Regions from separate parts of the Homo sapiens genome. Here all the other regions are linked to region 1. Evidence: fine-mapped expression QTL. A gene starts in region 1. Each other region holds a variant in brackets. All regions are shown on one strand. Distances are between the middles of the regions. Region 1 holds the start of CLEC1A (C-type lectin domain family 1 member A). Region 2 holds the start of CLEC7A (C-type lectin domain containing 7A). Region 3 holds the start of OLR1 (oxidized low density lipoprotein receptor 1).

Region 1 (8,185 bases):
CTCATTCCAATGTGGTATGCACTTTTAAATTTATTTACTTTGCTCCAGTATTTTATTCACTGGGTTGATGGTTCAGGCTTCAGGCCAGTAGTGGAGGTGTTCCTAGGTAGGAACCAGTTGTGGCTAAAGAAGGTGGGTAAATGCAATACCCAATGGTGGGCAGAGGTCTCAGCCTTGACAAAAGGGGCTGGGGGAGCTGTCAGGGAGACACACTGAAGTCTTATCAGGGGAAGGGTGGTAGCCACCTTAGCTCCCCTGTCAGGTCAGCTGGGAAGCTATCCATCTCCCAGACTCACATCTGTCCCAATATTCTGGCTATTCAGATCAGACAGGCCTCTCTTTTCATCTGCTGGAATGTTAGTGCTCCAAGTAGAGAACTGTGACTCTGCCTCTTATGTAAGCCTGAAACTGGAGGGTTGCTTCCCCTGTGGGGTTGCGGTCACCCTGAAGTGTTCTACAAAGTCTGTCTATGGGTGCACCCATGCTGAGCTCTTGTGGGAGAAGACCCAGCTGTGTCTGCAGTGGTGGACGAGGTTGGTAAGAAGTCCCCTTCTCCAAGATCCTTGATAAGCACCAGGGCTGTCTGACTGTTGGGACAGCTGTAGACATTCCCTGCTGAGCCCAGCACTTCAATTCTGCCTCTATTGAAAGAAACTTCCCACCAGTGGAACAATCTAATCCTTAAGACCTGCCATCTGGATTCTTTATTCACACAGGGTGTTCCCTTGATGTGGCACACTCTCCCTTTCCTTAGGAGTAGAAGTTCCTGAGAGACAGACTACTATGAGTGCTGCTGCTCCTCAGGGTCTAGCCACTCAGTGGCTCCAGACTAGTGCTGGGGGATGTCTGCTAAGGATCCAGTGATATGACCTGTCCTCCAGTTTTCCAGCAGCTGTTATCAGCACCAGGTCTGATGGGGGTGCCAGAGGCGTGACATAGACCTGTGAGATTCCTTGATTATAGATAACTTTAGTGTGTTGTCTTTCTTGAATGCTAGTTCAGGTAGTAATAAACTGGTCATGTGGATAGACTCAGGACCTCCTGGTTAGACAGGGTAGTGCAGGAAGTGGTAATAGCTGAGGTCACACAGTAGTTTTGTCCTTCTTGAGTGCAGTGTTATTCCACCTACAGATGCTGCAATGGACTGTGTTGGTAGGCTTCCAGCTACTGGGTGGCATTTGCAAAAGAGTATCAGGTGTGGTAGTAGCAGTGGGATTTGTGCTTGCCTTATGTTGCCCAGGGTAGGTAGTCTGGCTTCTCAGGTGATGGATGGGGCTATAAATCTCCCCAGGGTTTCTGTCCTTTGTATTAAGCTACCACGGTGGGTGGAGGGGCAAAGCCAGATGAGGGCTGTGTTAGGTGGGTCTGCACTCTGAGTCACCATGTGCATGGCAAGCAGCGGCCCCTTTTGGAGATGTGGTTGCACAGGGAGTGGGGAGTAGTAGGCAGCAGTAAGCCTAACCCAGATGTCACACAGTTGGCAAGGCAGATCTGGCTCCTGCAGTACTCTGCTAGCAGCAGTGAGCTAAGTTCCAGGCAGTCTGCACTCAGAGCTCACAACTGCCTGAGGCCATAAACTTTTCCCGTGGTGATAGCAACTGCTGGCGTTCAGGCCATGCCCCTCTCTGTCCACCCACACAGCTGGCACCCAGATCCTGCACTCACGGCTGCAACACATTTCCCACTCACCTTTCTGGTTCTGGCCAAGGGAGTTCATTTCACTTGAGGTTATATTGTGAATTTCAGTTGGGAGTTTTTACAATGTGCAACCCCTGGCTGAGCTAGTTGGCTGAGTTCCGTGAGGTTGTCTGTGAGGCATAAGGAATAGTTTCCCTTGGCTCATGCTGGAGACTGGGAATGCACACAAGCCTCTTCCTGCTGCTGCTCTTACTTTTATATTCATCACTGCTCTTTTAATTGGTTCCAGTGCTGGGACGGGTTAAGGCCTTCCCCCATGGCATGGACTTTCAGGTTCCCCTGTGGGGGTATGTATCCTGGAGCCAGTCTCTTCACCTCACACACCCTGGGAGCTTACAGTTTTTCACCTAGCTCATGGTGTAGGTATAACCTGCTGCTTCTTTCAAAGAGTCTGTGGATTCTTTCAGTTTTCCTGTTCAGTTCCTGTGTTGCTTCTTGGGAAAAGAGTTCACAGTGAGAAGGTTTTTTTTTTTTTTTTTTTTTTTCAGATGGAGTCTCGCTCTGTTGCCCAGGCTGGAGTGCAGTGGTGTGATCTTGGCTCACTGCAACCTCCGCCTCCCGGATTCAAGTGATTCTCCTACCTCAGCCTCCCCAGTAGCTGGTATTATAGGCACCCGCCACCACGCCCGGCTAATTTTCATATTTTCAGTAGAAACGGGGTTTTGCCATGTTGGTCAGGCTGGTCTCGAACTCCTGACCTCAGGTGATCCACCCACCTCAGCCTCCCAAAGTGCTGGGATTAAAGGCGTGACCACCATGGCTGGCCCACAGTGAGAATTTTTTACTCACTATTTTGTCCTTCCAAGTGGTAGAGTCATGCTAACACTGCCTCCAATCTGCCATCTAAAAAAAAAAAAATTCCAATTTTTAAAAAATTTAGAATAATTTGATGAACAACAAACAGCTTGAAACACATGTGAATCCACAATGTGCACTTCCTCATAGATCTTTTATATGGTCTGGCTACCCCAACTGGAGCATTCTGACACTCCTTTATATTTAGCATGCTTGATTTTGCCCACCTATCACCTAACATCTGGAAAAGTTTTGGTAGAGTAATATAAGTCTATTGTACAGATTCAGGAAGAACTTTTAGACATTATCTAAAACAATCTTCTTGTCTTTCAGTTTAGGAAATGTAGATGCAAATTGTTAATTGTCCTCCCAAAGGCACAAGGTTGTTACTGATACCTGTCTTGTTATGGTTTGAATGTGTTTCCTGCAGAATTCAGGTGTTGCCAGTGTGGTAGTATTGAGAGAGGTGGGGCCTTTAAGAGATGATTAGTCCTTGAAGTCTTCTCTCTTGAGGATGGTATTAAGGCCTTTATAAAAGACGCTACATGTAGCATTTGGCTGGCTTGACCTTCTGCTTTCTGCCACGTGAGAATACCCTTCCTCCTCTACAGAGAGTGCAGCTCTCACCTGACATCCAAACCTGCCAGTGCCTTGATCTTAGATTTCCCACCTTCTGGAATGCTGAGAAATACATTTCTATTGCTTATAATTTATCTGGTCTCAGGTATCCTGTTGTAGGTCAGCACAAACAGACTAAGATGGGAATATAATTCTAATGTACTGATTCAGGAAGAATTTTTTCACATTACCTAAAACATTTTCTTCTCAGTTTAGGAGATTTAGGCACAAATGAACTGGCTTCCCCAAACCACATGGTGGTTAGTAATAGTTTTAAAAGTTTTTACTTCCAGTAAATTGTATAATTCCTCGTGATCATAATGTACCAAATGTGCTATAAAATGTTGAATCAAGTTCAGATACTATAAGAAAGACCACTACTCTGTTCTTGGAGAAAGGAAGGGGCTAGGTCCTATAATCTCTTCTCTTTTCACAAAGACACAGAGAGGTTAAACTAAGTGACTCCCTAAAGGATGGGTAAGAAACAGGGATGTGTGTCCTTCCAAGTTATTATTATTCTGCAGACTCTGAAGGAACCACAGTGCTACACCGTGCTATTGTAAGTTCTTGCCTTCTTTACAGTGAAGTTACATGAGAAATGCAAACAGGTAAACAAAAAAGACCTGAGAAAGGCCAACTTTTTGACAACTGTTTAGACTGAGACGGCCTAAACAGAAAACACATGCTATTTCCCCTCAGCCTGACTGATTTGGCATTCAGAGTACAAGCTCACAGGAGAGGGGCTGGGCCTGTCCAGTCAGGAATTGCAGTCAGAGACTTTCCCTGCCCCTCGCTGGGAAAGAACATTAGGAATGCCTTTTAGTGCCTTGCTTCCTGAACTAGCTCACAGTAGCCCGGCGGCCCAGGGCAATCCGACCACATTTCACTCTCACCGCTGTAGGAATCCAGATGCAGGCCAAGTACAGCAGCACGAGGGACATGCTGGATGATGATGGGGACACCACCATGAGCCTGCATTCTCAAGGCTCTGCCACAACTCGGCATCCAGAGCCCCGGCGCACAGGTACCCTGTCTCCTGGAGTCCAAATAGACCACAGTCCTTGTGAAATGTGTGAGATGATCTATCCCTCCTAGAAATGGAGATATTTAGCTTGCATCTTATAATTTTATTTCCAATTACTCGCCCTGTGACATAGTAGTGATTTTTTTTTTTCAGTTATATTCAGTTCCATAATTCCCACACTTAGAGAAGGATTTTATTTCCTGGGCCACTCAGCCAATCTAAAGCTAAAATATGACTTCAGTTCTAGTGAAAAGGACTCACATGGTAATATACACAGGACTAGGTTCTAGGTCCTAAACCAGGTATGCCACTTTCCTTCTGTGTAACTTTGGATGAGTTGTTTAAGTATCCTGGTAGCATCATATTCTTTATTTATAAAATATTAACGGCCACAAACATGTATAAAGGGCTCATTATGTGCTGGCAGTGTTTTAAATACTTTAAGTATATTAATTCATATTAACTTGACTTAATATTAAATAGAAGTAATAAAACTTCCTTTACAAGGTGGTTGTGAGTACTGAGAATGATAAATTATGTAAAATATTTGAATGTCTGTCTGATCTGATATAGACTGACACAAAATTGCTGAAAGGAACACTTTAGGTTCTTAAGAAATGGAATGTTGAAAGGAATCCCACATTTTAACATTCATTCAGTGCCTGTGTTTTAATATGCCCTTTCCCTTCTGATTATATCATTGTTTTCTTCACCTTTGTAAATCTGGATATACCTTTAAAAAAAAAAAACTATCCTGTTCCTTATTTCTTTATCAAATAACTTTTAGTTTTCCTTCCTTTCTCCTACTAAACCCTCCATTCACTTTCTATTTATTTCTATTTATTAAATGACCCTCCACCTGAAACCTACTAATATGGCTTTTTTTTTTTTTAACTAAACTACCCAGTAAGCTGTTAAGGGACATTGGGGATTTCCAACCTCTTTGAAATGAAGCTAAGTGACAAAAGTAGGGATGTCAGCTTTTGTAGCCACAGGATATGTGTAATAGGATACAAAGCGTTTTCCTCCAAAAAAACTTACGAAGAGTCCATTTTTACGGCTGTGGTTTTGAGTAGCTTGTATATAACTTCATTTTCCACCTTTGACTGGAGCCAGGAACTCTGTCAAGGACTAGAGATCAGCATAATTAAGAACAGCATGTACAAATAAGTTCTGCTGAGGTTGAAGGGTGGAGAGGGAGGTGGAGCAAGATAAAACACTAGCTGCAACATCTGGGAGCTTCTTTGTAAGAAATGGATATTGAAACAGTAGAAGTGGAGATTACAAAGAATTGTCTTGGAAGAAATCATCTGGAAATAGTTATCTTAGGCAACATATATGAGATCTTGTTTTCATCTTTTTATGGTAATACAAACATTTAGGGGAATACCATCATAGAAGTATAATTATTTCTTAGATAAACATATCTGATATACCTTCGCTGATAAAAATAACAGCAGAAATCACTCAGAAATTTTCGGCAATGTGGAGGATTCAGATTCAACATAATGATGTGATACCATTAAGAGCTGGCAACTTTTATTTTTTAGAATTAATAAAAATAAATCACACACACATTCATTTAATTTCTAGACTTTTGTCAATAACAATTGACGTAACAACTATGTTTGTGTTTAAAAATGCCAAACAATTAAGATAGTAAAAATGCCAAACAATTAAGATAGTGAAAATGAAAAACAACAACCTCATACATTTTTCACAAACTTATGTTTGGGGTCATGTTATCCTAGTACTGAGGATATAATGTCCAATGTGATATGGTCCCTGTTCATAAGGAAATTGAAAGTCTAATACAATTCTCAACTAAGGAGTAAGTATAATAAGGTGTTATGGCAGAAGCATGTACAGTACAGCCGAGAGCTTAACCAAGCTCTCGGCTTAATTTTTACCTAATTAAGTAGAGGAGTTCAGGAAAGGCTTAACAGAAGGAGCAACTGTGGAGTTGAGTTAATTTTAACATCTTCCACATAATAAGGAATCGGGAGTGAGGGTGTTTGAGAGGCTGGGGACACTATAGACAGAGAGACGTATGAAGGGAAAGTCATGAAGGTTTTCAGTAGCTTTGTATTTTTAGAGAACTATAAGCAATATGTATGGCGTAGGTGTAGAGTTGGAGGAGGGAAACTTAGCAAAGGGGTAAGTCTGGCAAGTTAAGGAGGGATTTTAGGGCATGCTGATCTAGTTTAATTCTATTCAATAGTTAAAATGAAGTCAATGCAGGATTTAGATAGGGAGAAACAAAATTTTGCATTTTGGAAAGACCTTCCTGGCTGCAATGGAAATGATAAGTTGAAGGTATATGAAACTGCATGTGCTGATACCAAATTTTTCCACTAGTCCAGTACAAGGGTAGAAAAACCTGAACTGAGGCAGTATAGTAAAAATAAGGAAAAAGAATCAGATATGAAAGATGTCGAGGTGTTGGAGTTTAGATAATCGGTGATTGGTTACATGTGAGGAGACAAGGAAAGGGACTTCGGTGGTAGGTTGACTAGGTTCTGTTTGATGTAATGTAGATGGTGCTGATGTTAACTGAGACAGAAACTATAGAAGGGACAGGAAAGATGATGAATTGAGTTTGAGTTTAAGGGGTCTGCAGAAGGAGGGACATGCATTTGGAGCTGTCCAAAGACACCCGTATATGCAGGATGTGGGTTGGGCTACATAGACATGTGGGAATTACTGGCATAGTAATTAAATAAATAAAGTAAATGAGGTACCTAAGTCATTAAGTCAAATAAATGGCTAGTAACTAAAATGTATGAGAGTGAGTGAGATCACTGAGGGAAGGAATGTAAAATGAAAACATGAATGAACAGAAGAGAGTGTCAAGGAGATAATCTGAGGGAATATCAACACCTGAGGAGCAAGAAGAATGAAAGATTCCAAAAGGAGCTACCAGGGATGAATAGCAGAGAGTGGTAGAAGCAGGAGTCTTGGAGAGAGACAACAAGGGCATCAAGAGACAATAAATTCAAGAGTAATGGAAAATTAGAGTAATGGAAGGACAATAAATTCAAGAGTTTTAGAAAAGTCAATGATAATGACTGTGAGTTTTAAAAACAACAAATAACAAATACTGCAGAGAGTTTAAGCGAAAGGAAGACTAAAATGATTATTTAACAATTTATCAATAAGGAGGAAAATATTTAGTTTTGACAGCAGTGGTTTGAAAAGGAACTGATGGTTACATAATAAAATAAACAATTTAAGTCATTTTCTCTTTTTCTTTCTCTCTTTTTTTTTGAAGATAAAATGGGTTATTGCTGAGGTATTACAGCATTGGGTGACAGATTTTAAGAATGATTTTTTAAGATGTGGGAAATTCTAACTCAATTGTAGATTGAAAATAAGTTCAGGGAGAGAACTTCACATTAACAGTACAGTAAGAGGAGAGAGGATGAAATAACTGACAGGCTGAGATTCCTGCCAGAGACTAAATTTTATCCTATCAAAAGAATATGAAAAATTACTTTGGTTAAATAATTTTAAAAAATTTAATAATAAATTCAAGTTCCTCTTTTCCCTTGTTCACATTAATTACAGTACTATTGAATTTCCCAGCGTTTTAGTTTTATTTCCTCAATTACAGCATAAATCCCTCATCACAGTCATGACATAAATCGCTGTTAACTGATTCAACAACTCTTTAAATCAAACCTACTAATGACAAGACATTATGGGATGTACTAGAGGAGCCTCTTTTTCAGGTGCTTAGAGAAGTGGAAGGAATACTCTAAATCAATAGTTGTAGTAAATGTCATTTAGTGCTATTAAATCAATGTTGGAGGCCGCAGAAGCAATATAGGAATGAATGAGTTACTGATTGAGTTTAGTTTTGCGAGTTCCCAGAGGAAGTGACATGATCTGGACCCATGAGGCTAAGAAGTAAAATGGGATCCTATTAGGAGGAGCCTGATACAGTACACTAAGAAACTGACTAAAACAGAAAGAGCCTTGGGAAACTTCTTCCTATGGAAGAGAGGAAGTATGATTAAATTTATGCTTTCAGAATTCATCTTGCTGGCA
Region 2 (8,185 bases), 31 kb before region 1:
CTAATTTTGTATTTTTAGTAGAGACGAGGTTTCTCCATGTTTGTCAGGCTGGTCTCGAACTCCTGACCTCAGGTGATCTGCCTGTCTCTGCCTCCCAAAGTGCTGGGATTACAGGCATGAGCCATTGCACCCGGCCAGATTGCTCATTTTTCTTGGATGACCCACTTGTTTTATAGATGAAAGTTTTCAACAAACTTCACTGAAAATGTAAGTTAGATAACTGGTTTGTTTTTTGTCTTTTCTTTTGTTAGGTTGGTTTGTTTCCACCTGTTTCTTTCCTTTTTTTTTTTTTTTTTTTTTAGATGGAGTTTCACTGTTGTTGCCCAGGTTGGGGTGCAGTGGCACGATCTTGGCTCACTACAACTTCCACCTCCTGGGTTCAAGTGATTCTCCTGTCTCAGCCTCCTAAATAGCTGGGATTAAAGGCACCTGCCACCCCACCCAGCTAATTTTTTATATTTTTAGTAGAGATGGGGTTCCATCATGTTTGCCAGACTGATCTCAAACTGCTGACCTCAGGTGATCCACCTGCCTCAGCCTCCCAAAGTGTAGGAATTACAGGCCTGAGCCACCATGCTCGGCCTTCCACCTGTTTCTTGCATTAACATTTAATGAGGGGTATTTTTCTCTGAATACCCAGCCTATCTCTCCCACTGTCTTGAAATACGAAGGGTATTGTTTTTCTAGTTTGTCAATGATTTGCATAATTAATGTTTAATTGCTTTATTTTAGACAAAGAGACAAAAAAGGAGAATAATGAGAATTAGACTAAAGTTTATGTTTATTGAAAAATTTCTTTGACCACTTAGAGAGTTAACTGTTTTCATAGGATTGTGATTAAACACAGGGTGACAGTCAAAGTCACTATAGGGAAAAACTCTCCCACTGGAGGTCTGATTTGATAGTAAAGACAGCTTCTTATTACTGACTGCAAGGTACTCCCCTCATTATTGTTCTCTAGTTCTCTATTTCTATTTAAGAGGTCGACCCTTTTTCCTGGAGCCAATGTATTCACTGTTTGAGAAATTCCATGGTATCCCTTTGTAGGGGTGAAAGATTCCTTTTCCTCACTCATTGCTAGGTTCACGGCATCTACAATAAAACATAGATCAACAAGAGAATAGCATCCAAATTTATTTAATAGAAGTTACCTGAACAAACAGGCCTTGTTAAGTTCTACTCAGCTTATTACCATTAGATTATACCCTTTTGTTCTCCAGTCATACTTCTGCATAACTGTCCGTAGAAATACTCAGTTTTCCCTGCGTCTTCATTTCAGAAGGCTCTCTTGTCGTATAACATTTACATGCTTTTGTTTTGTTAATCTGTCTTTTGTTATAGGGGTCTCAGTCACGAACCTGGTGATGGGCAAGGAAAAGATACTACTTTTTCTCCCCTACGTTGGACAAGGAGGGTATGATCTAATGCTAATAAACTGGAGGGAGCTTAGCAAGACTAATTTGTTCAGATTCTTCTTGGCATCTCTGTATCTTCAAAGATAAGGAAGTTTCTTTCCTCTAGGAAACAATACTTCTAAAATAAGGGTCTTATGATCTGCTTCAGGGCAGAAAGACGGGGAAAGGTGTGAGAGTGAATTTCCTGATTCTGCTGTTTTCTCAAATGCCAAGAATCCATATTTTGGGGTTGCATGTCCTGAACCTCATACGCTGCTTTCCAAGCACTGCATTATAGGACTGAAACACTGATGAATGTTGAGATTAAGATCCACATTACCACTTTGCAACATGTCTACAAAAACTTAGTAAAACTTTTGTGGCAGCTTAAGTAAGGCGGGAAGCTCATTTATGTACTCTCTTGAGCTCTCTTCCATTTTGATAGGTGTTAGACTGTCAGAACTGCAGAGCCCTCATCATATAACAACTCCTCCCAAATCTCTGCACTAGAGACTTGGCAAACTCTAGCACGCCTTCTAGTAGCCTAAGGCAAGGTCCATAGGATGATTCAGCACTACTTAAAAGGCCAGCCTGAGGAAGCCCAATGCTGCTAGGAGAATTTACTTTTTGTTCCAGTTAAAACTTGTTAACAGGCCAGGTGTGGTGGCTCATGCGTGTAATCCCAGCACCTTGGGAGGCCGAGGCGGGCGGATCACGAGGTCAGGAGATCGAGACCATTCTGGTTAACACGATGAAACCCTGTCTCTACTAAAAATACAAAAAATTAGCCAGGCATGGTGGCGGGCGCCTGTAGTCCCAGCTACTTGGGAGGCTGAGGCAGGAGAATGGCGTGAACCCAGGAGGCAGAGCTTGCAGTGAGCCGAAATCGCGCCACTGCACTCCAGCGTGGGCAACAGAGCGAGACTCTGTCTCAAAACAACAACAACAACAAAAAACTTGGTAACAGATAGGCTCCTGAATTCCTTTTAGAGCAGTTACTTTAGAAATCTTACAGTTAGGCCAGGTGCAGTGGCTCACGCCTGTAATCCCAGCACTTTGGGAGGCCGAGGCAGGCGGATCACCAGAGGTCAGGGGTTCAAGACCAGCCTGACCAACATGGAGAAATGCTGTCTCTACTAAAAATACAAAATTAGCCTGGCGTGGTGGCACATGCCTGTAATCCCAGCTTACTCAGGAGGCTGAGGCAGGAGAATCGCTTGAACCCGGGAGGCGGAGGTTGTGGTGAGCCGAGATCGTGCCATTTGCACACCAGCCTGGGCAACAAGAGCGAAATTTCGTCTAAAAAAAAAAAAAGAAAGAAAAGAAAAATAAATCTTACAGTTAAATTCTTTCTCTGCCCTTTGAGAAGCAAATCTACCACACAGAACTGTTTCTTCAAGGACTTGGGAGCTGTTTCTTTGAAATGCAAACATTCAGGGAGATAAATCTTGCTCTTTCTTTCAGATGCAGCATAAGGACCAACTTAGCTGGGTGCTTCACTTCAACTATCACCATGTCCTTCTGTCATATAGATAGGCAAAGTTTCTCTGTCCTCTGGATAAGGGCCAATTAACAAATCCAGAGAGTCTAGTCACATTAACTTTCCTTAACACCACTCAGTATCTTTTCCTTAGCAAACTCCACTTTAAAATGTCATCAGCTTTACTTTTGGGGAAGTTGAGTTCAGTTAATGCTGCACTGGTTCCTGTTGCAATAGTATTACTGAATAAAACCTGTCCTCACCACATTAACTAGTATCCAGATTTGTTGATCCTTGACAACACTCAGATGTCTCCTGCACTCTACTGGCTTCAAGGTCGGATAAATGAGTTGAACACCTCTTCAGTTTCCAGCAATGTTAGGTGTTTTCTATATTTCTTTGATTTGATCATTACTATGGAAACTGGAAGAGAGGGAAAAAAAATCAAACATCTAACATAATATTTCAGTCCCAACACCTTCCATAAGCTGTTCCTTGCAATATAAGTGTATGGAATGATGAAAGAGGCAGTGTAGCGTAACAGAAAAGACCACGAGTTTTGCAGCAAGAGTCAGCTTTGATTTGATTCCTTGCTCTAAATTTTTAAAATTAGCTTCTTAAACCTGAGAAAGAGGCTAAATTTTCTGTCTCATTTTTTCATTTGAAAATAGAAATAATAATGCCTACTATATAGACTTGGAAAAGTGAGATTGAACAAGAAAATATGTACAACATGTGGTACTTAGCTCATAGTAATTGTTCAATAAATGTTATTTTGTGTTAATATCTGATAATTCCCAAAGAGATTTGTTTTCTCTGTCTGTTGTTACAACAATGCATCTCCTCATGCCATCCCTCATTTACCTATCTATATATTTCCTTTATTAAGCAATGAGTTTCTTCATAGGTATCATTTTTCCTTGTATTGTAAGCTCCTACCAATTGAAAAGGTGGGCATCCAGTACCTGTTTATGTAATTTAAAAAATACATGAATAAATACATGAACAAAGTTATGGTAAACTTGGAGCACCAAAACTGAAATAGTTTGCATCGGTTAAATTAATTAATGTCAGACTTAGTTGTGAGAGTAATGAAGGCAGCATAAGACATTAATGTATGCATTTTTCTTACATTTGGTCTGAAACAAAGACTCATCTGCTATGCTGCCTTTTAGTTTTCCTGAGTCAGCAGTCTCAGAAACAGGATCTAAAGGTACAAATGGAAAATTACCACAGCATAGTTTCATTTCCTGCTCTTGAATATCTGGTTGAACTACTTAAGCTTAATTTGTTAAACTCCGGTAAGTACCTAGCCCACATGATTTGACTCAGAGATTCTCTTTTGTCCACAG[ACAGT/T]CATCTCAGGAGCAGAAAGAAAAGAGCTCCCAAATGCTATATCTATTCAGGGGCTCTCAAGAACAATGGAATATCATCCTGATTTAGAAAATTTGGATGAAGATGGATATACTCAATTACACTTCGACTCTCAAAGCAATACCAGGATAGCTGTTGTTTCAGAGAAAGGTATATATATGTTTTTTCTAATGTGTGCCTTTAGCTCTCCCGTTTGAAAAGATATAAGGGGAGGCTAGGCATGGTGGCTCACACCTGTAATCCCAGCACTTTGGGAGGCCGAGGCGGGTGGATTGACTGAGGTCAGGAGTTCGAGGCCAGCTTGGCTAACGTGGTGAAACTCTGTCTCTACTAAAAATACAAAAATTAGCCGGGCATGGTGGTGCACGCCTGTAGTTCCAGGTACTTGGGAGGCTGAGGCAGGAGAATCACTTGAACCTGGGAGGTGGAGGTTGCAGTGAGCCAAGATCATGCCAATGCACTCCAGCCTGGGTGGCAGAGCAAGACTCCATCTCTGAAAAAAAATAAAAATAAAAACAAAACAAAAAGATATAAGGGGAGAAAATTTGAGAGCCTCGTGATGTGTATATTTTTATGGATATACTTTTAAAGGCTTCAGATGTCACTGAAGATAAATTGAATGCACCCTAAACCTTTTTTCATGAAAATTATTCAGTGACCAATTATTAGTGTTTAAATTAATTATGTCTGATGGCAGAAAATAGAATTTCTCTTTTCTATAGATATAGACATTTCATCAGTGAGGAATTGGTAATAAGTGGGATAATACACAAAGATAAAGGATTTCTGTATGAGTGACTTGTTGCTTGTTTGATAGAAAGGCTAGATTATCGAATGGAGGCCAGGAAACTTAAAGAAGTATATATATGAACAACATTTTTTTTTTGTGGTAAGAGATTAATTTAAATTGTTTTTAAACAAAAAACAATTATTGGTATACCAGTGATGGAAAATATATGAACATATGGTAGATAAAAACATCCCACCAGCAGGACATGAGTCTTAAACAAAGTGTAAATGAAATGAAATAGAAAGAAGGGCATTGGAGGATCTCTGTATTCATAGAATGGGTGATTTAGCCTACTCTACGATTCTCCTATGTGACAATTCTATGAAATGTCCTGACAGCTTAGTCACAGTGGAAAGCAGAAATACATTCTGGTTATGGCAATGTTCATACAAAATTAGTTCCCTATTATCTTTGAGAGAGAGAGATCATTTGTCGGTTTTGACACCAGAGTTTGCTTTCTTCTGCTTTCTGGTTATTCACACTGCACAAATATTTTCCTCTCAGCACTGATGTAATTCTTTTCTTGGGCAACCTATTGAGGAAGCGTGGAAAAAGTGGATGAGGCAAGAGGTAGGGAGACATGCGCATGTTTATGCATATGTGTAGGCAAACGGTATCCTGCAACAACACACCTATCATGTGCTAGCAGTCTCTAAACAAGGTGCTTTTATATGTGTTAGCTCGTTTAATTCCCGCAATAATCCTTTGAGATATTATTACCCCAGTTTCACAAAGAGGAATAAAAAACAACAAAGGGAGTAATTTGCCCAGGGTCATGCAACAAACATATGAAAAGGGAAAATTACCCTTAGTAATCAGTGCTATCTCCCCAACATTAAGCTATTTCCTCTAAGAATCAGTGGGATTTCAGGGATCCTACTAATGTCAAGACCTGTAGATGTCAATGTGGAACTGAAATTAGGAGCATACAGTTATCAAGCCAATGTGCCGAAATTACAATTCCAGCAATTGAAGAAGAAGGTATCCTTACTGGTGGAGAAGCACAGCAAATCCTAGGTGACCAGGTAACCTAGGCAGTGATTAATAATTCACTTAAAAATTTGCCAGTATTTTTTGTTGTTGTTGTTGGTGGTGTGTGTGTGTGTGTGTGTGTGTGTGTGTGTGTGTGTGTTTTAACAGGGTATCACTTTTTTGCCTATGCTGCTCTGGAATTCCTAGGCTCAAGTGATCCTCCTGCCACAGCCTCCAGAGTAGCTGGGACTACGGGAGCTCACCACAATGCCCAGCTAATTAAATTTTTTTTCTTTCTTTGTTTTTCTTTTTTTTTTTTGGTAGGGACAGGGTCTCCCTGTGTTGCCCAGGCTGGTCTTGAGCTTCTGGCCTCAAGCAATCCTCCTACCTCAGTCTCCCTTCTGGGATTACAGGTGTGAGCCACCGTGCAAGGCCAGATTTTTGATGAACTGTAGAATTAAACTGCCCCACCATCCGTCATTCTCTTTCTTTATTCCATTTCTGCCCCCTCTGGCTCCTCAGGATCGTGTGCTGCATCTCCTCCTTGGCGCCTCATTGCTGTAATTTTGGGAATCCTATGCTTGGTAATACTGGTGATAGCTGTGGTCCTGGGTACCATGGGTGAGTATTTGGTGGAGGAGATTAACAACAGACAATTTAGTAAGCAATTATTATGTGCCAGGCACTCTTTTAAGGGCTTGACATGCATAATCTACTTTAATTTGTATATAATCTGGTTTTATCTGTATTGGGTTGGTGCTGTTAATGCCCATTTCACTTATAAAGGGTGTGAGAGACTGAGAGGTTATTTTACCTTTCCAGGGTTATAAGCTAGTTAGTGGTGGGACCATGATTAGAAATTTGGGTGATCTGTCTAAAAAACTCATACTCTTAACTACATTGCTCTCCTACCTCCCTTACATAGCTGGTTTCAAAGCTGTGGAATTCAAAGGATAAATTAATGAAGAAAACAAGCGGAGCTGAAGAAGAAAGTACAATATGGTGCTGTCTTCCTAATGAAATAAATTCACTAAATGGACATTAAGCTATTTTTATGATTCACATTATTTAAGGAAATTATTTCCGATCTTTAATATAAACACCTTTGAATACACCAGAAATTTCCTGAGGCACTTGGTCTTAAGTCGATATTTTGTAATGGATTAATATTTTTTTTACATTTTATATCACATGCAATCTGTTGTCAGTCACCTTCAGAGAGTCTTCATGACATTCCTTAATTAGTCAAATGTTTATTGAGTGCGTTCTATGTTATAGGTACTGGGCAGTTTCTCAAGGATCTCTCATTTTTAAATAACAGAAGAAAGGTGAAAGATGTTGCTATTTCAAATCTGTCATGGGTCCAATTGACTCTATGACATTTGCCTCTTGCTGCCTCCCTCATTCTATTTCTTCTTCTCCACCTTCTTTTTTCTTTTCTTTTTTTTTTTTTACTATACCTCCTTTATAAAAGTTATGTATTTCTTTTCATCTATTCTATCAATCGTCTTTATCTCTCCACAGCAATATATCATCTATTTATCATTAATCAATAATGTATTCTTTTATTCCAATAACATTTGGGTTTTGGGATTTTAATTTTCAAACACAGCAGAATGACATTTTTTCTGTCACTATTATTATTGTTGGTATGTGAAGCTATTTGGAGATCCAATTCAGGAAGCAACACATTGGAGAATGGCTACTTTCTATCAAGAAATAAAGAGAACCACAGTCAACCCACACAATCATCTTTAGAAGACAGTGTGACTCCTACCAAAGCTGTCAAAACCACAGGCAAGGGCATAGTTAAAGGACGGAATCTTGACTCAAGAGGGTTAATTCTTGGTGCTGAAGCCTGGGGCAGGGGTGTAAAGAAAAACACTTAGATTCAATGATTGTAAATTTAAGGCAAATACACATATTAGTATTACCTTAGTGTAATGTATCCCTGTCATATATACAATAAGGTGAAATTATAAGTACCCTATGCAGTTGGCTGGACAGTTCTAAATTGGACTTTATTAATTTTTAAAATCAGTAACTGATTTATCACTGGCTATGTGCTTAGATCTACAGGAGATCATATAATTTGATACAAATAAAAGAAAAGTGTTCTCTCCCCTTACAGAATTGACATTTTAAATGCGATACAGTTAGAATAGGAAATATGAC
Region 3 (8,185 bases), 71 kb before region 1:
TCTGTTGCCCAGGCTGGAGTACAGTGGCACAATCTCAGCTCACTGAAAATGAAAAGCATTTTCATTTTCCACCTCCCAAATAGCTGGGATTATAGGCTTGCAACCAGGCCCAGCTAACTTTTGTATTTTTAGTGGTGACAGGGTTTCAACAGGTTGGCCAGGCTGGTCTCGAACTCCTGACCTCAGTGATCCACCCCCCCCCTCAGCTTCCCAAAGTGCTGAGATTACAGGCATGAGCCACTGCACCTGGCCAACTTTTTCAATTTGTTCTCAAATACTCTGCACATAATAAAAGGAATATAGGAAACAGGGAGGAGGAGGGAAATGGAATCCTAATTAGGCTGTCAATATTGGTAATTTTTCCTAATAGTTTCCTATATGTTTTATTTATGTATTTATTTTTCCATTCTTCCTTTGTGTATTCTTTTCTTTGCACTTTTTTTTCCTGGAGTAATTTAAAGTAAATGCCAGATATCATATCATTTTGCTTATAAATACTTCCTTCAGAAGACATCTCTAATAGATATATATCTGGTTAGGAGGTTGTCAAGGGAAAATAGAAAAGTATTCTATCAGTAAATACATATAGACATACTTATGGGTCTCTCATGTAAGCGTCTTTGTGACATGAGTCAATCATGGATTTTACTGAAATACATTATTTGATGGGTAATTCAACTGTGCTGAATATTAGTACTATACTAATAATTATTATTTATTGGCTTCTTATTATGCTCCAAGTACAAAGCTTGTCATTTTTAACCAGCGTGTCATTTGAATTCCTATAGCAACGTGACATTTTTCACAAACCTAGTGTAAAAAAGCTTATTATTTTTACCCAGCATGTCATTTGAATTCCTATAACAATGTTATCAGGTAGACATTATCCCTAATTTCCAGACATGTCATTTGAATTCCTATAACAATGTTATCAGGTAGACATTATCCCTAATTTCCAGACAAAGACATAGATTCAAAGTATTAAGATTTCCCAAGATTGTAGACTAAAGGAAAGTACTGAAACTAGCTCTTTCTGCATTCAAAGTGCTCTCTGCTGCTACGTTACACTGGCACTGCATGAACTAGTAGCCCCAGATAAATTCTAAAATCACCCAGGACACACCATCGCTGGAAATGGGAGCCATATGTGATTCACCCCAAAATTCTTAGATCCATTGCCAGATAAAACAGTGAAAATCAAAAGAGAATATATCTGATTCGTAAAAGACACCATATAGAAACAGTCTGCTAATGAAATTAGCAAACAAACATTGGAATCAAATATTTTGGCCCATAATTCTGGCACATTTTTTACAAATGTAGTGTGACTTACTCTCTTTGAATTTCAGTTTCTGTCTCTGAAGAGTGGGTACAATATCTCTCCTCTGATGCTCATGAAAAATAGTTTTCCCTTTCATAAATTACTTAGCGAAATATCCTGAAACACCTTCAGAATCACCACTTTCTCCACCTGCAATACACATAACTCAAGAATTTGCGTCAGCGAACTTCCCAATATGAAGCAAAGCCTCTCCTTCCTCCTACCAATGATTGAGTCATTCTTCTATTAGATAACAGTAGCTATTTAAATACTTCTGCAGAAGCTCACATATTTTTAGTTTGTTGAAGTTCGTGACTGCTTCACTCTCTCATTCTTAGCTTGAATTTGGAAATGACTTTTGATGACCTAAAGATCCAGACTGTGAAGGACCAGCCTGATGAGAAGTCAAATGGAAAAAAAGCTAAAGGTACTAGGGATGGGAAAATGTGTACAGGGAAAGAATCCCAGTGTTAGCCCCAAAATGTAAATTCACCGAAGAATGGGATTAGAAAGCTAAACACCCAAGTATGGGAAAATAGAATTAATACCATTTACTTAAAAGAAAAACAAGAAGGCTATAATGATGATGATGATGACAACTTATTTATAACAATTTATACTGAGTATTTACTACAGGTTATTCTATATGTTATTCACTTTCAGAGTATTATTTCTCAGAATCTTCGCAATAACATTTTGAGATTGGTACTATTACTATCTCCCTTTTACAGAGAGCTAACTGGGCATCAGGAGGACTAACAACATCATCCAGTTTCACGGAGCTAATAAGTGGTAGAGCTAGGACTGTACCACAAACTCCCATTTATCCAGAATTCTATACATCGGAGGGCTCGGGAACCAAATTTATCTGGTGTATATAACGATAATTTCTGTAAGAGTCCTTCAGGCACTACAAAAACCTGAAGTACCTCATGAATTATGCAGGCAAAGTAAATGATATTCAGTATAGTTTAGCATAAGTTACATTTTGTTGTGTACTACTGCTTTGAAAAATTGTAAGTTCTGTTTGACCCATACAGTAATTAAATTGCATAGCTATAAATTAATTCATAATCCCAATTCCACAGACAATCTGGGTAAATTGCCTTTTATTCTATATCTGTTCTGAGGAAAATGAACAGAATATAAGGAGAGAAAGAGAGACAAGTATTGTCAGAAATTTGGATAAAGAAATTCCAAATTACATTTCCAAAAACAAAACAGAAATTTCTCTCAATAGAGAACATAAGTGTGAGCATGGAGTGATTTAACATTTGAGCCAATGAACTAAATTGCTATAAAAACTGCTGATATTTATAGGTAAAACCAGAAGTGAACAATAGTCATTCGTTTCTTTACTCATTCATTATTTGTGTAGTAAATATTGAGGGTCTGAATTTTACAATAATCATGAGATTGATTTTTCTTTCAGAATCTTGGTTAGATCGGTACCTACTGCAAAGAATCGGATTGGTTTATGATTGGAAAATCACTAGTAGGGGCAGCAGTTGGATTAATGGTCTCTGCCTACCAAGGACACAGGACAAAGAGAATCTATAGAAAAAGGGAACACATACCTTCCTTCACAGGGTCCTGTGATTTTCTTTTTCCTCTAAAAATTTAGTTTTTCATTATTTAAGAGTGATGAGGCCAGGCGCGGTGGCTCACGCCTGTAATCCCAGCACTTTGGGAGGCTGAGGTGGGCGGATCATGAGGTCAGGAGTTCGAGACCAGCACGGTGAAACCTCATCTGTACTAAAAATACAAAATTTAACCTGCTGTGGTGGTGCGCGGCTGCAATCCCAGCTGCTCAGGAGGCTGAGGCAGGAGAATCACTCGAACCCAGGAGGCGGAGGTTGCAGTGACCTGAGATGGCGCCATGGCACTCCAGCCTGGGCGAAGAGCAAGCTCCCCCTCAAAAAAAAAAAAAAAAAAAAGAGCACGATGAGGGTATCTGATGCCCTACAATGTGGAATGAACAGTGACCACAGAGTTGAAAGATTTACATAGAGGTATTTGCCCCTGAGGCTAGAATTAGGCAATTATTTGCAAGAGACACAGCTATCTTCTACAACTTCTCTGCTAGCTTGCCACACACACTCTAGAAGCCAGTAAGTATTGAATCAGAAGATGAACCATATTTATCCCTGTCAAGTTTCTATCTTCTTTTTATCATTTGTGGAGTCTAACACACTACCTTTGACATATGAAAACTTTGAATATATCTGACCACTGCTTGACTGGATCATTATACATTCACACTGGAAATTGTATTATAATATTTCAAGTCATGTAGCTACTGACAATTAGACTAAAGACTTATTTTTGGGTTTTAGCATCTGTGTGATCTTAAGCAAGTCACTAAACCTTTCAGTCTCCTTATTTGCATACAGAGGATAATGATAGGAGTACCTTATTTGTTTATCTCACAAGGTGAGGAAACCAAATACATTGTATGGGATGTTTTCCTACACAACCAGTAATATCTGTGATTTTTTTTTTTTTAGTGGTGGAACACATAATTGTATATTCATACACCTGTGAGCTATGTGATTTTTTTTTCAAAATGGTGAATATTTCTCTTGTAAAATCAAGCCTACACTTGGCGTGAGTGTAGGATATGCTGTTAATATAAGCTAAATTAATATCAAGGTTTCATCCCTACTTTTCTTTGATTAATAACCCCAGTTCCAGGTTGTAATTTTGGTGGACTCATAATTGAATAGCATAAAATTATTCATAAA[GTTAT/T]TTGAGGTAATCTCAGTTGATTAACTGAAGAAAGCTTGTTTGCTTGATGTCTGATATTTATGTTACTTTTGTGTGCACATGTGTACACGTGGTGTATATTAAAAACTTCAGGCTCTCTGCACTGTGGATGAATTTGATCCAACCAAGCTAGACTGTGAGTTTCTTGAGGAGTAATTGTCGGGAAAGTAGATAAAGTATAAGCTTTAGAATCATATATTTAGATTCAAATATCTGGTATCGAATCCTGGCTCTGAATTTACTGGCTGTGTGACCATGGGTAAATTACTTAAATTCCTTAACTCTCCCTGTTTTCCATTCCTAAATGTGTATGATGAATTATTTGCAGAGCCATTTGGAGGACTAGTGGTATGGAATGCAAACTATTTATGTCTATTTACTAAAACATAAACAGAGTAAATCACCAAGTACAGACAGGCTCCAAGGAATGGTTTGCTTACTTGTTCACTCTTTTTTGTCTTTCTGATTCTATCCTCTGTCACTCTAGGTCTTCAGTTTCTTTACTCTCCATGGTGGTGCCTGGCTGCTGCGACTCTAGGGGTCCTTTGCCTGGGATTAGTAGTGACCATTATGGTGCTGGGCATGCAATGTAAGTGCTAAAATACGGAACTGATGTTTATTGGGGCAGGGGTGTTGGAAATGAGGTTAATAAATATGGTTTATAAGTTTCTTTCATAACAACTACAAACAGCCTTGATATAGATTCATTTTAGGCAAAATGTTTTTAAGAGTGACCATGAAAATAAAGGGGTATATTGTTCATCTTCCAATGGATAGAGCCATGAAATAAAAATTACAATTGGTAGGCATTTTTTTGTTTGTTTGTTTTGTTTTGTTTTGTTTCTTTTGTTTTCATAACTTCATGGATAGGCCGGGTGCGGTGGCTCACACCTGTAATCCCAGCACTTTGGGAGGCCAAGGTGGGTGGACCACCTGAGGTCAGGAGTTCAAGACCAGCCTGGCCAACATGGTGAAACCCCATCTCTACTAAAAATACAAAAAGTAGCCGGGTGTGGTGGCACATGCTTGTAATCCCAGCTACTCAGGAGGCTGAGGTAGGAGAATAGCTTGAACCGGGGAGGTGGAATTTGCAGTGAGCTGAGACTGCACCATTGCACTCCAGCCTGGGCAACAGAGCGAGACTCCATTTCAAACAAAACAAACAAACAAAAAACCAACCTCATGGATAGAGCCTATTTAAATTCTAGAATGATGGAGAAGATAATAACTTAAAGTTACTAATATCCAAGATCATCTGAGAGGCCCAAAAGTAAAAGAAATTTTATTTAGCTTGCTGAGTTTTGATAGAGATAATTAAATACCATTTTAATGTTAAGAACCAGAAACACAATCTTAATAAATAAAACATTTAAAATAAAATATATTTCACATTTATAATAAGAGCATTTAGAAAAGAGAAGATATTGAGGGAAAAAAAGAAGTGAAAAGATGGCCCAGAGTGGCCAAGAAGGAAAGAAAATGGTGCCCAACGTTCACCTGAACTGCCTGTGAATTTAGGTTGTAGAACTGAGTTGTTTAGGCTACCCAGGATCCAGGTTATTATGGCCATTGAAGTGCTATTTGCTTCCTAACTGTTGTTCAAGCTCACAAACTATTTTATTTTAAATTTGTAAATACTTAGGGCCTTTCCTAGTGACAAGGAGAAGTGCCCTTGACTTAGTGGTGGTGACCAGAAAAATCTTTTGAGCCTTTGATCATCTTATAACAGGATCAAAGCTGCCTTCAAACCAAGCGGTCTGCTTTGTATTGCACCATCAAAATTCAGGAACTGAGACATTTGACCCTTAACATGTTATCGCCTGCTTGATTTCACAACCTTCACTTTATCTTCACCCTTCCTAAAATGTACCGTGGCCAAGGGGAAAAAAAAAAGAAAAGAAAAAATTCTTGGAGACTCTTGTGACACAGTGTGCGTGGCTGTCTCAAAAAAGGGGTGTATGTCACAGTTCTTAAAATTAGGAAGTCTGGAAGAGTAGACAGAATGGGAGGAGACACAGCAGAGGAATTGAGACATAAATAGAGTAAATCGCTAATGACATTTCCTACTAATAGTCACTGAGTCTGGTGGGTGTCTGTTTCAGGTTTTCCTTATTTTATTTATTCTAATGCTGTACTGGTTATCTTGTGATTACTTTTCATTTGTAACTCAATAAAAAAAAATCTTGGGTTTTTTTTGTTGTTGTTGTTGTTTTTTATTTTTTTTGAGACAGTCCCCCTCTGTCGCCAGGCTGGAGTGCAGTGGCACTGTGATTCCCCTGCCTCAGCCTCCTGAGTAGTTGGGACTACAGGCGCGTGCCACCACCCTCAGCTAATTTCTTTGGTATTTTTAGTAGAGATGGGGTTTCACCATGTTGGCCAGGATGGTCTCTATCTCTTGACCTCGTGATCTGCCTGCCTCGGCCTCCCAAAGTGCTGGGATTACAGACCTGAGCCACCGTGCCTGGCCAAAATCTTGGTAATTTTTAAAAAAATTACAAGTGTTTGCAATGTTCCTGACATTAAACAAAATACTGCAGGAATATTCAAGAACCTCCAAATCTGTAACTTCTGAGTAAATCTGGGTCATTTTTCAGCAGCTTATCTATTGTCAAAATAGATTTAATTCTGTTTTGATTTCCTCAAAAAGTCCCTGGAGGGATTTTTATTTGGATTAGAACTAGAGTCTTAATGCAACTGTGATTCAGTATCCCAGGTGTCTGACCTCCTAACACAAGAGCAAGCAAACCTAACTCACCAGAAAAAGAAACTGGAGGGACAGATCTCAGCCCGGCAACAAGCAGAAGAAGCTTCACAGGAGTCAGAAAACGAACTCAAGGAAATGATAGAAACCCTTGCTCGGAAGCTGAATGAGAAATCCAAAGAGCAAATGGAACTTCACCACCAGAATCTGAATCTCCAAGAAACACTGAAGAGAGTAGCAAATTGTTCAGGTATTGGGAGAAGGGTGGGTAAGGAGACATAGTGGAAGCTTTCTGTCCAATCATAACTATTTTTTGGAAACAATTCTGGGCTCAAAATTGGTCTATTGTTATGCATATCATTATTCATTCATAATGTTCTATACAAGAAGTTCTCAATTTCTTTTTCTTTTTCTTTCTTTTTCTTTTTTTTTTTTAGATGGAGTTTCGCTCTTTTGCCCAGGCTGGAGTGAAGTGGTGTGATCTCTGCTCACTGCAACCTCCACCCCCTGGGTTCAAGTGATTCTCTTGCCTCAGCCTCCCAAGTCGTTGGGACTACAGGCTCCCATCACCACGCCCAGCTAATTTTTGTATTTTCAGTAGAGACAGGGTTTCACCATGTTGGCTAGGCTGGTCGCGAACTCCTGACCTCAGGTGATCCACCCATCTTGGCCTCCCAAAGTGCTAGGATTACAGGCATGAGCCACCGCTCTCGGTCAATTTTTTATTTATTTTATTATTATTTTTTAATTTTAGACGGAGTCTTGCTCTGTCACCCAGGCTGGAAAGCAGTGGTGTGATCTCAGTTCAATAAGCTTCTGCTTCTTGGGTTCAAGCAGTTCTCCTGCCTCAGCCTCCCAAAGTGCTTGGGATTACAAACATGAGCCACCATGCCCAACTAATTTTTGTACTTTTAGTAGAGACAGGGTTTTGCCATATTGAACAGGCTGGTCTCAAACTCCTCACCTCAAGTCATCCGCCTGCCTCAGCCTCCCAAAGTGCTGGGATTACAGGTGTGAGCCACCGCACCCGGCAAGAAGTTCTAAATTTTTAATCAGAACCACCCTATGCTGTGTCAAATCCTTGAAAAATCTGATTTAATTAAGCATACCTTTTGGTGGATTTAAGTTTTCCTTCTTTATAAGAGCCTCTTCTTTTTAAAATTTTAGTTTTGAGATTTTTCTTTCTTTTTTTTTATTTTTTGAGACAGTCTCGCTGTGTCACACCCAGGCTGGAATGCAGTGGTGTGATCTCAGCTCACTGCAACCTCCACCTCCTGGGTTCAAGTGATTCTCTTGCCTCAGCCTCCCTAGTAGCAGTTTTGACATTTTTCTTGAAGAATTCTGCCACCCCCACCCCATTCCATAGATCCTTATCTCTTTCCATTCCAATGCATTTT

What was found. PIP is the estimated chance that this variant, and not a neighbour inherited with it, causes the effect.
Region 2: its variant is fine-mapped to the expression of CLEC1A in whole blood (INTERVAL, PIP above 0.99).
Region 3: its variant is fine-mapped to the expression of CLEC1A in blood mononuclear cells (TOPMed, PIP 0.90).

The regions. Positions count from the first base shown.
Region 1 is chr12:10,094,758-10,102,942 of GRCh38, reverse strand. CLEC1A (C-type lectin domain family 1 member A) reads left to right here and starts at 3,958. Exons shown (of 6, transcript NM_016511.4): 1 at 3,958-4,135. The coding sequence starts at 4,021.
Region 2 is chr12:10,126,193-10,134,377 of GRCh38, reverse strand. CLEC7A (C-type lectin domain containing 7A) reads left to right here and starts at 4,179. Exons shown (of 6, transcript NM_197947.3): 1 at 4,179-4,398; 2 at 6,533-6,631; 3 at 7,670-7,807. The coding sequence starts at 4,296. It overlaps LOC105369655 (a long non-coding RNA gene), which reads right to left. Exons shown (of 4, transcript XR_007063208.1): 2 at 3,138-3,297; 3 at 2,586-2,693; 4 at 764-1,092. RefSeq lists an enhancer at 1-640. The variant ACAGT/T (reference allele first, on the strand shown) is at 4,227.
Region 3 is chr12:10,165,565-10,173,749 of GRCh38, reverse strand. It overlaps OLR1 (oxidized low density lipoprotein receptor 1), which reads left to right and starts at 1,618. Exons shown (of 6, transcript NM_002543.4): 1 at 1,618-1,748; 2 at 4,575-4,676; 3 at 6,793-7,038. The coding sequence starts at 1,673. It also overlaps a transcript of TMEM52B not described here. RefSeq lists a silencer at 5,833-6,033. The variant GTTAT/T (reference allele first, on the strand shown) is at 4,066.